Linked DNA regions of Homo sapiens: region 2 is linked to region 1. A link means that fine-mapping ties the variant in region 1 to the expression of a gene that starts in the linked region. Tissue or cell type: coronary artery. Region 1 holds a variant in brackets; the other region holds the start of a gene. All regions are shown on one strand. Distances are between the middles of the regions.

The links. PIP is the estimated chance that this variant, and not a neighbour inherited with it, causes the effect.
Region 2: it holds the start of CYP3A4-AS1, and the variant in region 1 is fine-mapped to the expression of CYP3A4-AS1 in coronary artery (GTEx, PIP 0.96).

Annotation. Positions count from the first base shown.
Region 1 is chr7:99,959,358-99,967,044 of GRCh38, forward strand. It overlaps AZGP1 (alpha-2-glycoprotein 1, zinc-binding), which reads right to left. Exons shown (of 4, transcript NM_001185.4): 4 at 7,373-7,687. The coding sequence ends at 7,646. Among named protein-coding and RNA genes, the nearest start is that of AZGP1, 13 kb to the right of the region's middle. The variant T/C (reference allele first, on the strand shown) is at 3,449.
Region 2 is chr7:99,760,765-99,768,451 of GRCh38, forward strand. It overlaps CYP3A4-AS1 (CYP3A4 antisense RNA 1), which reads left to right and starts at 3,168. Exons shown (of 1, transcript NR_198962.1): 1 at 3,168-6,132. It overlaps CYP3A4 (cytochrome P450 family 3 subfamily A member 4), which reads right to left. Exons shown (of 13, transcript NM_017460.6): 7 at 7,590-7,687; 8 at 6,367-6,494; 9 at 5,613-5,679; 10 at 3,091-3,251; 11 at 1,277-1,503; 12 at 55-217. RefSeq lists an enhancer at 2,867-3,147.

The DNA.
Region 1 (7,687 bases):
GAAGAGGATAATATTACTCCCAATATCACAGGGGGTAAACACCCCGTTGTGATTTTGTTCGTAATCTCCTGGAAGGGAGATGATATTACTCCCAATATGGTAAACACCCTGTGTGTACACCGTCTGTGATATTGTTCGTAATATCCAGGAGGGGAGGGGATGATATTACTCCCAATATCGCAGGGGGTGTACATCCCCTGTAATATTGTTCCTAATATCCAAGGGGGAGAGGAGATTACTGCTCTTCATATCGTAGAGGGTGTACACCCGATTGTAATATTGTTCGTAATATCCAGGAGGGGAGAGAATGATATTACTCCCCATATCGCAGGGGGTATACATCCCACTTTCATATTGTTCATAGTATCCAGAGGGGGAGAAAATAATATTATTTCATATATCGCAAGGTGTGTACACCCCCCTGTAATATTGTTTGTAATATTTAGAAGGGGAGAGGATGACATTACTTCCCATATCACAGGGAGTGGACATCCCCCTGTGATATTGTTTGTAATACTTAGGGAGGGAGAGGAAGATATTACTCCCCATATCGCAGAAGATGTACACCCCCCTATTATATTGTTCCTAATATGCAGGGGGGAAGGCATGATATTACTCCCCATATCACAGGGGGTGTACATCCCCTTGTGCTATTGTTCATAATATCCAGTGGGGGAGAGGATGATATTACCTCTCCGTGATATTGTTTGTAATATCCAGAGGGGGAGAAAATAATATTATTTCCTATATCACAAGGTGTGTACACCCCCCTGTAATATTGTTTGTAATATTCAGAAGGGGAGAGGATGACATTATTTCCCACATCACGGGTGGTTCACATGCCCCTGTGATATTGTCCATAATATTTATGGAGGAAATGGAAGATATTACTCCCCATATCGCAGGGGGTGTACATTCCGCTGTGATATTTTTTGTAATATCCAGGGAGGGAGAGGATTATATTACTTCGAATATCACAGGGGGTGTACACCTCCATGTGATATTGCTTGCCATATCCGGGGGGGAGAGGATGACATCAAGTTTAATATTTTAAACACCCTGTGTGTACACTCCCTGGTAATATTGTTAGTAATATCTAGGGAAAGAGAGGACAATATTAAACCCAATATTGCAGGGGGGTACACAACCCTGTGATGTTGTTCATAATATCGAGGGAGGAAGAGTATGATACTACTTCCAATATCGCAGGCAGTGTACACCACACTGCGATATTGTTCCTAATATCGAGAAGGGCAAAGGATGATATTACTCCCAATATCGAAGGTGGTGTACTCTCCCCCTTGATATTGTTTCTAATATCCAGGGGGGAGAGGATGATATTACTCCCAATATAGCAGGGGGTGTACACTTCCTTTGTGATGTTTTTTCTAATATCCAACGGGGCAGAGGATAATATTACTCCCAATGTCGCAGGGGTGTCCACCCCCCACTGTAATATCTTTCCTAATATCCAGGGGAAATGAGGATGATATTGCTCCAATATCGCAGAAGGTGTATTCCTCCCTGTAATATTTGTTCTTATGTCCAGGTGGAAGAGAAAATGACATTACTCCCAATATTGCAGGTTGTGTGCAACCTCCGTGATGCTGTTCCTAATATTCAAAGCGGGAGAGAATGACATTACTGCCAATATCACAGGGGGTGTACAACCCCCACTGTGATATTGTTCCTAATATTCAGAATGGGAGAGGATGATATTACTCCCAATATTGCAGGGGGGGTAACACCCCCTGTGATATTGTATTTAATATCCAGGTAGGGAGAGGATGATATTACTCCCAATATAGCAGAACGTGTACACCCCATCCCTGTGATATTACTCCTAATATCCATTTGAGGAGAGTATGATATTTCTCTCAATATAGCAGGGGGTGTACACTCCCCCTGTGATATTGTTCCTAATATCCGGGGGGGGAGAGGATGATATTACCTTAATATCGCAGGGGTTTTACACCCCCCTTTAATATTGTTTTTAATATCCAGCGGCAGAGAGGATGATATTACTCCCAATGTCGAAGGGGGATACACCCCTTCTGTGATATTGTTCCTAATATCCAGGGGCAGAGAGGATATTACTGCCAATATCGCAAGGAATATACAACCCTCTGTGATTTTGTTCCTAATATTCAGAGGGAAGAGGATGATATTTCTCCCAATGTCGCAGGGAGTGTATCCCCACTCCGTAATATTGTTTCTAATATTCGGGGGCGAGAGGATGATGTTACTCCCAATATCTCAAAAAGTGTACACCTCCCTGTGATAATATTACTCTTAATATCGCAGGGGGTATACACCCCCACTGTGATATTGTTCCTAAAATCCAGGCGGGGAGAGGATATTATCCCAATGTCTCAGGGGGTGTACACTTCTCTGGTAATATTGTTCCTAATATCGGGGGGGTAGAGGATAATATTACTCCCAATATCGAAGGGGGTGTACACCCTTAATGTAATATTTTTCCTAATATCGAGGGCAAAAGAGGATTATATTATTCCCAATATCGGAGGAAGTGTACAACCCCCATCATGTTGTTTCTAATATCCAAGTGGGGAGAGGATGATATTACTCCCAATATCGCGGGAGGTGTACACCCTTTCTGTGATATTTTATGTAATATCCAAAGAAGGAAAGGTTGCTTTACCCCCAATATCGCAGGGGGTGTACATACCCCCTGTGACATTGTTTTTAATATCCAGGTGGAGAGAGGATATTACTACCAATATCGTAGGGCGTGTACACACCTTCTGTGACATTGTTCCTAATATCCAGGGGGTGAGAGGATGATGTGACTGTCAATACCGCAGAAAGTGTACAGCCTCCCCCCAATGCCGTGATATTGTTCCAAGTAGGGAGAGGATGATATTACACCCAATATCGAAGAGGGTGTACACCTTCTCTGTGATATTGTTCCTAATATCCAGGTGGGGAGAGGATAATAGTACTCCCAATATTGCAGAGGGTGTACACCCCCCTTGTGATATTGGTCCTAATATCCAAGAAGAAAGAGCATGATATTATGGTCAATATCGCAGGGGGTATACACCCTCCCTGTGACATTGTTCCTAATATTTAGGTAAAGAGAAGATGATATTACTTTCAATATCGCAGGGGGGGTACATACCCCCTGTGACATTGTTCTTAATATCCAAGTGGAGAGAGGATGATATTACTCCCAATATTGCAGGGGGTGTACACCCTGCCTGTGATATTGTTTTTAATATCCAGAAGGAGAGAGGATGATATTACTCTCAATATCGCAGGAGGTGTACAACCTCCTGTGATATTGTTTCTAATATCCAGGAAAAAAGAGGATGATATTACTTTCAATATGGAAAGAGGTGTACACCCCCACATGATATTGTTCCTAATATCCTGGTGGGGAAAGGTTGATATTACTCCCAATATTGCAGGAGGTGTACACACCTCC[T/C]GTGTTAATTTTCCTAATATCCAGGGGATAGACAATGACATTACTCCCAATAACTCAGGGGGTGTACACCCCCTTTGTGATGTTGTTCCTAATATTTAGGGGTGAGAGGTTGATACTACTACCAATATCGCAGGGGGTGTACACCACCACCCCGTGATATTCTTTCCAATATCCCGGGGGAAAGAGAATGATATTACCCCCAATATTGAAGGGGGTGTACACCCCCCCAGAGATATTATTTTTAATATTCAGGAAGGAATAAGATGATATTACTGGCAATATCGCAGGGGGTGTACCCTCCGCCTGCAATATTCTTCCTAACATCCAGGTGGGGAAAGGATGATATTACTCCCAATATCGCAGAAGGTGTATACACCCCTGTGATATTGTTCCTAATAACCATGAAAAGAGAGGATGATATTACTTCCAATATAGCAGGGGTTTTACACCCCAAATGTGATATTGTTTCTAATATCCAGGAAGGGAAAATGATACTACTTTTTTTTTTTTTTTTGAGACGGAGTCTCGCTGTCGCCCCAGCTGGAGTGCAGTGGTGCGATCTCGGCTCACTGCAGGCTCCGCCCCCCTGGTTCACACCATTTTCCTGCCTCAGCCTCCCGAGTAGCTGGGACTACAGGCGCCCACCCCCTCGCCCAGCTAATTTTTTATATTTTTAGTAGAGCCGGGGTTTCACCGTGTTTACCAGAATGGTCTCAATCTCCTGACCTCGTGATCCTCCCGCCTCTGCCTCCAAAAGTGCAGGGATTACAGACGTGAGCCACCGCACCCGGCCTGAAAATGATACTACTCTTAATATCGCAGGGGGTGTACACCCCTCCTGTGATATTGTTCCTACTGTCCAGGGTGAGAGAACACGATATGACTCCCAATATTGCAGAGTATGTACACCCCCCCGAGATATTGCTCCTAATACCCAGGGAAGGAGAAGATGATATTACTCCCAAAAGCACAGAAGATGTACACCCCTCCTGTGAAATTCTTCCTAATATCAACGGGAAGAGAGGATGACACTACTCCCAATATCTCAGGCGGTGTACAACCTCATCCTCTCCCAACCTGAACATTAGGAACAATATCACAGGGAGCGTGTACACCCCATGCGATATTAGGATTAATATCCTCTCCCAAATTGGATATTAGAAACTATATCAAAGGGGGGGATATACATTCCCTGCGATATTGGGAGTAATATTATCCTCTCTTCCCATGGATATTAGGAACAATATCCCAAAGGGAGAGTACACTCCCTGTGATATTGGGAATAATATCATCCTCTCCTCCTCTGGATATTAAGAACAATATCACAGAGGGTGGTGTATACCCCCTGCAATATTGAGAGTAATATCATCCTCTCCCCTCCCAGAATATTACGAACAATATTACAGGGGGGTTTACACCCCCTGCGATATTGGAAGTAGTATCATATTCTCCCCTCCCCCCCGCATATTACAAACAATATCACAGGGGAGTGTACATTCCCTGCGATACTGGGAGTAATATTATTTTCTCCCCCCTTCCCCGGATATTATGGACAATATCACAGGGTGGTGTACACACAGGGTGTTTACCATCTTGGGATTGATATCATCCTCCTCCCCGGATATTGCGAACAATACCACAGCAGAGTGTACACCCCTGCGATATTCGGAATAATATCATCCTCTCCCCCCTGGATATTACGGACAATATCACAGGGGGGTGTACACCCCCTGTGATTTGGAAGTAATATTATCCTCTCCCCTTCTGGATATTACAAACTATAACACAGGGGCTTGTACACCCCCTGTGATATTTGCTGTAATATCATCCTCTTCCCCCTTGCATATTATGCACAATATCACAGGAGGGTGTACATTCCCTGAAATTTTGGGAGTAATATCATTCTTTTTTCCCTGGATATTACAGACAATATCACAGGGAAGTGTACACCTACTGCGATATTGGGAATAATATTACCCACTCCCCCTCTGGATACTGCGAACAATATCACAGAGTGGTGTACATCTCCTGCGGTATTGGGAGTAATATCATCCTCCCCTTGACTGGATACTACAAACAATATCACAGTGGGGTACACACCCACTGCGATATTGGGAGTAATTTCATCCTCTTCCACCCTGAATATTACGAACAATATTACAGGCGGGTGTACACCCCCTGTGATATTGGGAGTAATATTATCCTCTCTTCCCCTGGATATTATGAACCATATCACAGAGGTGTGTACACCCCTTAGATTTTAAAAGTAATGTCATCGTCTCCTTTCCTGGATATTACAAACAATATCACAGGGGAATGAATACCCAAAGCGACATTGGGAGTAATATTATCCTCTCTTCCCCTGAATACTACAAGGAATGTCACAGAGGGGTGTACCCCCGCTGAGATATTGGGAGTAATTTCATCCTCTCCCCTCTTGGATATTTCGAACAATATCACAAGACAGTGACCACCCCCTGTGATATTTGCATTTATATCATCCTCTTCACCCCTAAATATTATGAAAAATATCACAGAGGGGTGTACAACCCTTGGGATATTGGGAGTAATATTATCCTCTCCCCTCCCTGGAAATTACAAACAATATTACGGTGGTGGTGTACATCCTTTGTGATATTGAGAATAATAGAAATTTCTCCATCTTGGATATTAGGAACAATATCACAAGGGGGGCTGTACACCCCCTGCGATATTGGAAGTAATACTATTCTCTCTTCCTTTGGATGTTAGGAACAATATCACAAGGGCGTATGCACTTCCTGCGATATTAGAAGTAATATCATCCTCTCCTACCCTGGATATCAGGAACAATATGACAAAAGGAGTGTACACCTTCTGTGATATTGGGAGTAATTTCATCGTCTCCACCCCTGGATATTAGGAAAAATATCAAAAAAAAGTTTTCACCCCCTGCGATATTGGGAGTAATATCATCCTCTCCCTCCCAAGATGTTAGGAACACTATCACAGAGGGGTGTACACCCCCCGTACACTATTAAAAGTAATATCTTCCTCTCCCCCCTGGATATTAGGAAAAATATCACAGAGACCTGTACACTTCCTGCGTATTATCCACTCCCACCCTGGATATTAGCAAAAAAATCACGGGGGGGTGCACACCCCCTGCGATACTGGGAGTCGTATCATCCTCTCCCTTCCTGAATATTAAGAACAAGATTACGACGGGGGATGTAAATTCCCTGCGCTATTGAGAGTAATATCATTTTCTCCCCTCCTGGATATTAAGAACAATATCTCATAGGGGGTGTACACCCCCTGTGGTATTGGGAGTAATGTCAGCTTCTCACCTTTTGGTTATTAAGAACAATGTCACGGGGGGAGGATGTAGACCCCTGCAATATTGGGAGTAATATCCTCTCCACCCCTGGATATTAGGAACAATATCAAAGGGGGGGTGTACAACCCCTGCAATATTTGGGTAATATCATCCTTGTCCCCCCTGAATATTAGGAACAATATCACAGAGAGTTTAAACACCCCTTGTATATTGGGAGAGATATTCTCCCCTCCCCAACTGGGTATTAGGAACAATATCAAGGGGGGGTGTACACCTTCTGTGATATTGGGAGTAATATCATCTTTCTTCACTCTGGACATTATGAACAATATCACAGGGGGGTGTACACTGGCAAGTAATATCATCCTCTCCCTTCATGGGTATTAGGTACAATACCACAAGGCGTCTAGGGACACCTGAACAATCCCCAAGGGAAAGGGGGTTCAGGCCACACTTGGGATTGCCCAGGTCAAGGTGCCCAGGAACCATGGCCTCCAGGGGAAACCAAGAGTTTCAGATGAATTCAGTGCTTGAGGGCAGAACCAATGAGAAAATCTAGTCACATTTCTACAGCGCATCACCGTTAAAAAAAGGATTCTCTGTTATGCTAGGCAAGGAGGGATGATTATTTATTAGCTTCTACAGATTAGACAATGGGGTGGGGGTGGGCTCAAGGTGAGATGATTTTTTGGGTCCAAGTCTACTCAAGACAGGCATCCCAGTCTTCGGTCTCCAAATCCACCTCCTGTCTGTCCCCCCACACTGCTCCTCAGGCCTTGTGGATCCATTGACTGTGATTTCTGTGGTTCAGCTCCCACATCAGGCAGGAAGGGCAGCTACTGGGTCTGAGATCCCACATTGCCTCCAACCCTTGCTTCCTAGCTGGCCTCCCAGGGCACCACGAGGGGCTGGGCCAGGCT
Region 2 (7,687 bases), 200 kb before region 1:
ACTCAGTTAAAAGAATTATTAATACAACATTATTTTTATAGAAAATTGACTAACCTGTGTTTCTTTACAAGGTTTGAAGGAGAAGTTCTGAAGGACTCTGATTAGAGCAAGTTTCATGTTCATGAGAGCAAACCTCATGCCAATGCAGTTTCTGGGTCCACTTCCAAAGGGTGTGTATATGTAAGGATCTATGTTGTCCTTGTTCTTCTTGCTGAATCTGGTTCCACGTTGGTAGATTTTTAAAAAGTTAATGACATAATACCCCTAAGAGTTACATGTTAGGGTTTCTTACTTAGGGGCCACCCCTCAACTAGTAGTACACAGGATACTTTTGTGGGCTGGTCATTGAAATCCTGCTATGCTTATTTTGCTATGAGAATTGTAAGCTACAGATCCTTTCTACTCTCCTGACACTATAGGAGCTTTCAGTCTTGTTGAGATGAGATAAATAGTGTTGCAAAGAATACTTATTTCTAAACACTGAAATTATATTCAGGGTGGTGATGTGTCCACACTATAAAAGGCACATAAGTGATGGGACTGACTGATGGAAAAGTAGGTTCCTGCCTCAAGTCACACTTACATTGGTCATGAGGAAGGAGAAGGGGAAATTGTCTTGTACTATTTCAAAATTGTTATTTTGCACTTTCCTTCTCATCTCCTCTCTTGTTTTTCTAATTCTCCTCCTTCTCCTCCTTACCTTGTCTTCTCCCTCCTTCTCCTCCTTCTTCTTCTCTCCATCTCTCCCTCTTTCTCCCCCACACCTCCATAGAATAGTTGAAGTCAGATAATTTACACAGGCATATGATGCTACTGTACCGATGTAATGCAGTATCATCACTGCTTTCTTTGTCTATCTGTTCCAGTAAGCTATAAAATTCTTTGAAGATTAGATGCATGTTTTTTATTAAAATGTTATTCCTAAATATTTGATTATATTTATGAAAAAAATATTCATTTGGGGGACATAATAATAGCATTGTGATCATGTGTTTTTAAAAGAGTCCTTACATTTTGGACACTGATGACCCATAAGGACATAACTGATGACCTTCATCGTAAGTTGTTGGAATTGTGGATGACTGTAGTTTTCTTTTTTCTAGTCTATGGTTTGTAAAGTGTGACAATAATCAATTTGATGATTAAAAAAATCTCTAAATATAAAAATACAAGCAAATAATTATACAACCACATGACTGTCCTGTAGATTAAGAGAGGCAGAATATGCTTGAACCAGGCTGGTTCAGGGAGGGCTCCCTTCCCAGGGGCCTTGTACCTTTCAGGGAGGAACTTCTCAGGCTCTGTCCAGTACTTTGGGTCACGGTGAAGAGCATAGCTTGGAATCATCACCACCACCCCTTTGGGAATGAACATCCCATTGATCTCAACATCTTTTTTGCAGACCCTCTCAAGTCTCATAGCAATTGGGAATAATCTGAGCGTTTCATTCACCACCATGTCAAGATACTCCATCTGTAGCACAGTATCATAGGTGGGTGGTGCCTGGAAAGAACGAAACAGATTTGGATAAATTGAGATTTTGAATTAACTTTTAACTCAGTCCATGCAGTACTAATGAAGTATTAGGAGCTCCAGAGACTAACTCATACTGGTAAAGGATCGAAGCATTTATAAAGTGTTTTAATAACTGTCATGCCCATTGCTGTGCTCAGTGGCCCACTGAGATGTGTGGAGGAGTTATGAAGGTGGGAAGCATTCGGGAAGGCTCTCACCCCAGGGACTGAAATCCTTAGCATAACCGTGTATATATGTCTATATATATATACACACACACATACACACACACATATATATGTGTATATATATGTGTATACACACACTAAAAGGAGGACTTTTGTTATATACAGAAAATGTGGAGAGAAACACTATATTATATAAAATCTCCATAAATAATTTGAGGATAAACTAGTCCCTTTCTATCCCAAAAATGACAAAGAAGGTTCTGGTTGGATGTAACCAGAGAACACGATTTCAGTGCTAGTGGAAGTTATAAAGAGGATAGAACCCCACACAGCCCTGTCCTCACTTGCTGAAACAGTCTCCTAGTTGTTGCTTCAGGGCTGGACTGTAATCTCTGAAGAACATCCCTTTGTGTTCACCTCACTGCCACAGCCGGGCCAGCCCCAAAGCCGTGTCTCTTCATACCACAAAGAATCCCAATTTTGGCAGAGGTCTGAAAACAGTGTGGGTGATATGCACCTAGTATTTGGTGTTATATTTGGAAGGCAATATGATAGTGTTTTAAGACTTTAGCTCAGGAGCCAGATATCCTGGTTCCTAGCTTGGCTTCTTCACCAGTTACTGCCTGACTGGAACATGAGATAGGTGTGGGGAGAGCTGAGTCAGCCTGCACAGCACACCCAGGGCCAGGCTCCGTCAGACTACAGCCAGACCAGAGCAAGTCCTGCCAATATCAGCAGAGCTCACTATCCAACTATGATGTGTGGAGGAGTTATGAAGTGGGGAGACATTCGAGACGGCTCTCACCCCAGGGACTGAAATCCTTAGCATAACCGTGTACTGGTTTTTCTTTCTCATTGAAACAAATGTGACTAATAGGCTATGACCACTAGCATCAAATAACATATGAGAAAGTGATTGTTACCTTTCAAAAAAAAAAGTCACATGTCTGTAACCAAGAAAATAAAAAGAGATAAAAAGAGCAAATTCCTGTGTCCATATGTGGATACAGCTAAGGGGACATCACACACCACTATGGTGCCTGCTGCAAACATGTAATTCACAACCAAAACCAATGTGAAATGAGTGTGAGCAACAAATGCTTATTGTTAGATGCCACTGAGGTTTTTGGAGGTTTTTTACTTAGCATTATTGTAGTAATAGAAAGCAGATGAACCAGAGCCAGCACGTTTTACAAAGATCTTACGCTTCTGCCAGTAGCAACCATTTGCTATGTTTCTTTCTTTTTCTTTTCAGAGCCTTCCTACATAGAGTCAGTGAAAGAATCAGTGATTATGCTTTTTATAAAAATTCTCCTGGGAAGTGGTGAGGAGGCATTTTTGCTAAGGTTTCACCTCCTCCCTCCTTCTCCATGTACCATCCACTCACCTTATTGGGTAAAACTGCATCAATTTCCTCCTGCAGTTTCTGCTGGACATCAGGGTGAGTGGCCAGTTCATACATAATGAAGGAGAGAACACTGCTCGTGGTTTCATAGCCAGCAAAAATAAAGATAATTGATTGGGCCACGAGCTCCAGATCGGACAGAGCTGAAAGGAGAGGAAAGACATTTTAGGTAAATCAGATCAATGTAGGGCATCACAGTTTAGATGAAGAGAAATCTAAGTGAAGCCCTCAAATCCCTAAGGGAAAAGAATAGAAAAGCAATTCAGAGGTACACTGGGGGTGGTTTCATTCTGATGTGTATCTTACAGAACCAGAATAAGGCAAATCATTTTAATCCAGTTTTCCCCAAGGTCTTCGAGAATGTGGGCCATCCACTCCTCCTCATGCCACCCCCGCCACCTGCACAGCTGTGTAATTTCCAGAGAGAGCATTTCCGCATAACATACTCAGTGTTATGGGTGTGTTCCTTGAATGATCCTAAAAGTACTTTATTGTAAGTTAATATGAGGTAGTACTCTCCCCCAAGAAAAATGTAATTTATTTTAGCTACAATATATCTTGACAAACTTTGAGAGAATTTGCAACACTAATGGTTAAATGTAGGGAAAATCAAAGGACGTTTCCCGAAGATATGTTTGAGGGAACTTAAGGGACCAATATTGGTCTACAGACCACTTCTTGGTATTCAAAGTGTGGTCCATGGGTCAGAAGCATCTGAGAGCTCATTAGAAATGCAAAATCTCAAACCCCACCCTTGAACTACTGATTCAAAATCTGAACTTTCACAAGATGCAGTGATTTGTGTGCATAGCCTAGCTTGAGAAGCACGGATTATATCTTTGAGAGGCATCAGGTGATAGATCTAGGCTACAGTTCTCAGAATTGACTATCTCAGGATGTACAAGAATGAGAGATGGACAAAAAGCTAGATGAGTGGTAATTGATTGTAGTCTGATGGATGGCATTAAAATAGCATAAGCTCCTATGATTACAAGTTGGGCCCCTCTTGATTTTTCTCCTGAGAGAAGCTCAGGATGGTCCATCACTGGTCTGTTTGATCAGGACTGGATTAGGACCTTTAGAGACCTGGAACATAGAAATAAATATAATGCCTGCTCCAACCATGTAATTCACAACCAAAACCAATATGAAAGGAGTGTGAGAAAGGTCGACAGAGCTGTGATTTACCAGTGAAGACTTCTGTGATGCAGTTATAAGTAAATTCAACTACCTAATCATAGTATTCAGTTATCATGAACCTGATGATACTGATGTGAAATTGAACTATAATCTCAAAGTTTAGAGCTCTGCTGTCCAATATGGTAGCCACTACCCACTAGTGGCTATTTAAAATCAAATTTTATTAAATTAAACTGAAATACCATTTAAAATTGATCTTCAATGGCACTAGCCACATATCCAGTGCTCAATAGCCATATGTGTCTAGTGATTTCTATATGAAACAGTAAAACAATAGACTATTTCCTTTATCACAGCAAGTTATATTGGGATAGATAGATGAATAGTTAGATGATAGATAGATAATATATAAGTAGATAGATGATAGATGGATAAATGATAGATGATAGATGGATAGATGATAGATAGATAGATGATAGATAGATAGATAGATACATAGCTAGATAGATACATAGATAGATACATAGACATACAGACAAAAGTGGATGTAGACATGGATATATTTAAAGCAGTATGCTGGAGTAAGCCCAGTCCTGCTCTCTAGAACCAATAGTTAAATATTCAGGAATTTTGTGAGATGGTTGCCAAGTCTTGGTGGCTTGTAATTGACCATGGTCATCATTTTGCCACTGTCATAGTAATAGTGACTTCAGTAAAAAACATACATGGGTTGTAAAACTCGTAGGTGAAACATTGAAGACAAAGAGGATATTTACACGGTCTCAGAGGTTTTCCCCACAAGTTACTAATCCATTCCAAAGTGGAAAATAACTTTGCAGTAGATTAACCTGGTGAACACACTTTCAACAAGTACTGCCAGTTAAAATCACCCCTTTTGGAACAGCGTGGCTCCTGATTGGATGTTAGATGTATTAGGTAGCTGCAAAAGTTATTGTGGTTTTTGCCATTACTTTTAATTGCATTTTTTTGCAATTAAAAGTAATGGAAAAACCCACAATTAATTTTGCAGCAACCTAATAAATTTCTAGGCAGAAATTTTTATTCAGTGGATCTGAAGGAGGCTGAGAATTGGCATTTGATCTGATGTAGGTGATCCACAGACCGCAGACTGACTTTCTAGCATGCCAGGTTTGCTTAGGGTTGCCCTTTACTCTTAGAACATGGCTATCTATGCCTGCATGCCTCTAGAAAGTGCCTCCAACTACCACTTATAACATTCAAACATGTGTCGTTCTGCTATGTGGCAGAAATTCTCATCATCCTGGAATACTTCCTGCACATTTTCAGAACAAGGCCTTCCCTCTGAGTGCCCCACAAGTAGCCCTCAGAAACACTCTGGTTACCTTTGTGGGACTCAGTTTCTTTTGAATTCTGAGAGTCAATCATCAGCTGAAGGAAATCCACTCGGTGCTAGAAGCAAAAAGAGAAATTTCACTGACAGAAAGTGGCTCCTGAAGTCAGAAGTAAATCACAAGCGTGGTCCTTGATCTCCCTTCTGAGAATATGGCTCCTTGAAGACCAGAAATCTGATGCATGTTGCCTGAATCACCAGTGAAAAACATACCCTTCTAAATCCTTGGAAAGCAGGATGTTTTCCTGAAACAAATCTGGCTATCATGTGAGATGGCTCAAATTTAACACACGCTACACTTCAGCAGGTGGCCTGATAGGGACTTTCATTTGAGAATGTGTAAAATAACAGGTTTGTACTTGAAATGAGTCTTTACCAATTTATGATCTGGGGAAAGCATAATATCAGTAAAATATATTTCCAAACAGTAATGTTTATCCTCTGACAATTTATTGAAGGGAAGTAAAGTGGTAAAGTTTTATCTCAATAAAATTTATGCCGTGGCATACTAATTGTTGTGTCTGATATCAAATTTCATGTGCTGTCTCTGACTCATTCTCATATCTCCTTCCCCAAACCCCACTTTCTGCATTTCTACCAAATGAATTCTCTTGCTCTAAACATGAGCAGTCTTCATGTTAAAAGCATTCTTTAAAAACATACAGGTAACTGCACTGATCATATGTATATTATCTAAAAAATTATGAAAAACTAAACATCCTCCTATAACTACCACCACATTTTACCTTTTGTGTATCTTCGAGGCGACTTTCTTTCATCCTTTTTACAGATTTTCTTAAAAAATTTGTAACTTCTCTTGGAAACACACAGATATTTAATACTTCAAGAATTGGGATGAGGAATGGAAAGACTGCTGTAGGAAAAACAAAACAAAAACAGAAAAAGAAATTCATTGTGAATGTGCAAAATTTACCTGGAGCAATTCTAGTTTTCTCTACCAACCAGAAGAGTAAAAGACATCAAGGTTCTCAACTGGAAGCCATTCCTTCTATGACTTTTGCCCCTCTTTCAGGCCAGTGGCTGAGCAAGGGCAGGTCTATGCATAAGGAGCACCGCTACAGCAGTGAGATCAGCAGCCCCTTGTGCATCTTTTGAAGGATAAAAGGAACAAAATTCAATGCCCTAATCTCTTTGCCTTTATCTATTGGACTACAGTCTCCTAGAATAACCCAAATCATAATCTGAAGCTCAAAATTAATCTTGCTGTTCAAGAAATAGTAGGTAGTCAAGATAGAAATAACACAGCATATCTCTGTCACCTATCATGGAATAAAGATAAAATCAATAAGGGAAAGAAAATTGAGAAACTCACACATATGTGGAAGTTAAATAATAAACATTTAAGTAACCAATGAGTCAAAGTAGAAACCAAAAGGGCAAATAGAAACTGTTTTGAGGTGAACAAAAACTAAGATGTGATAGACCACAATCTCATGGGATTTAGCAAAGGAAGTGCTCAGAGGGAAAGTTACAGCTGTAATGTCTAAATTTAGAGGAACAAAAAAATCACAAATCAGTAATCTATGTTCATGCCACAACATAGTAAACGAAGAAGGGCAAACTAAGCCTGAAGCCAGCAGAAGAAAGAAAATGATACAGACTAAAGTACAAATTCATGAACTAGAGAATAAAAAACCCTGATGAATTAATATCATTTCTATGAAGTGTCCAGAATAGGCAAATCCATAGAAGCAGAAAGTTGATTAGTGGTTGCATATGATGACAGGGTTTGTGACAGGGGGCTGATAGCTAAAAATGTATGAGGTCTCTAGATTGACAAAAAAAGTTTTAAAGTTTAAAATGATGATGGTCACACATATCTTCAAATGTACTACAAATCACTGAACTGTATATTTTAAGTGGATGAATTACATGGTGATTTATATCTCAATAAAGCAGTTATTTTTAAGAGAGCAAGATAAATAAAAGGAAATAGTAGTCCACATACTTATTGAGAGAAAGAATGGATCCAAAAAATCAAATCTTAAAAGCTTCTTGGTGTTTTCCACAAAGGGGTCTTGTGGATTGTTGAGAGAGTCGATGTTC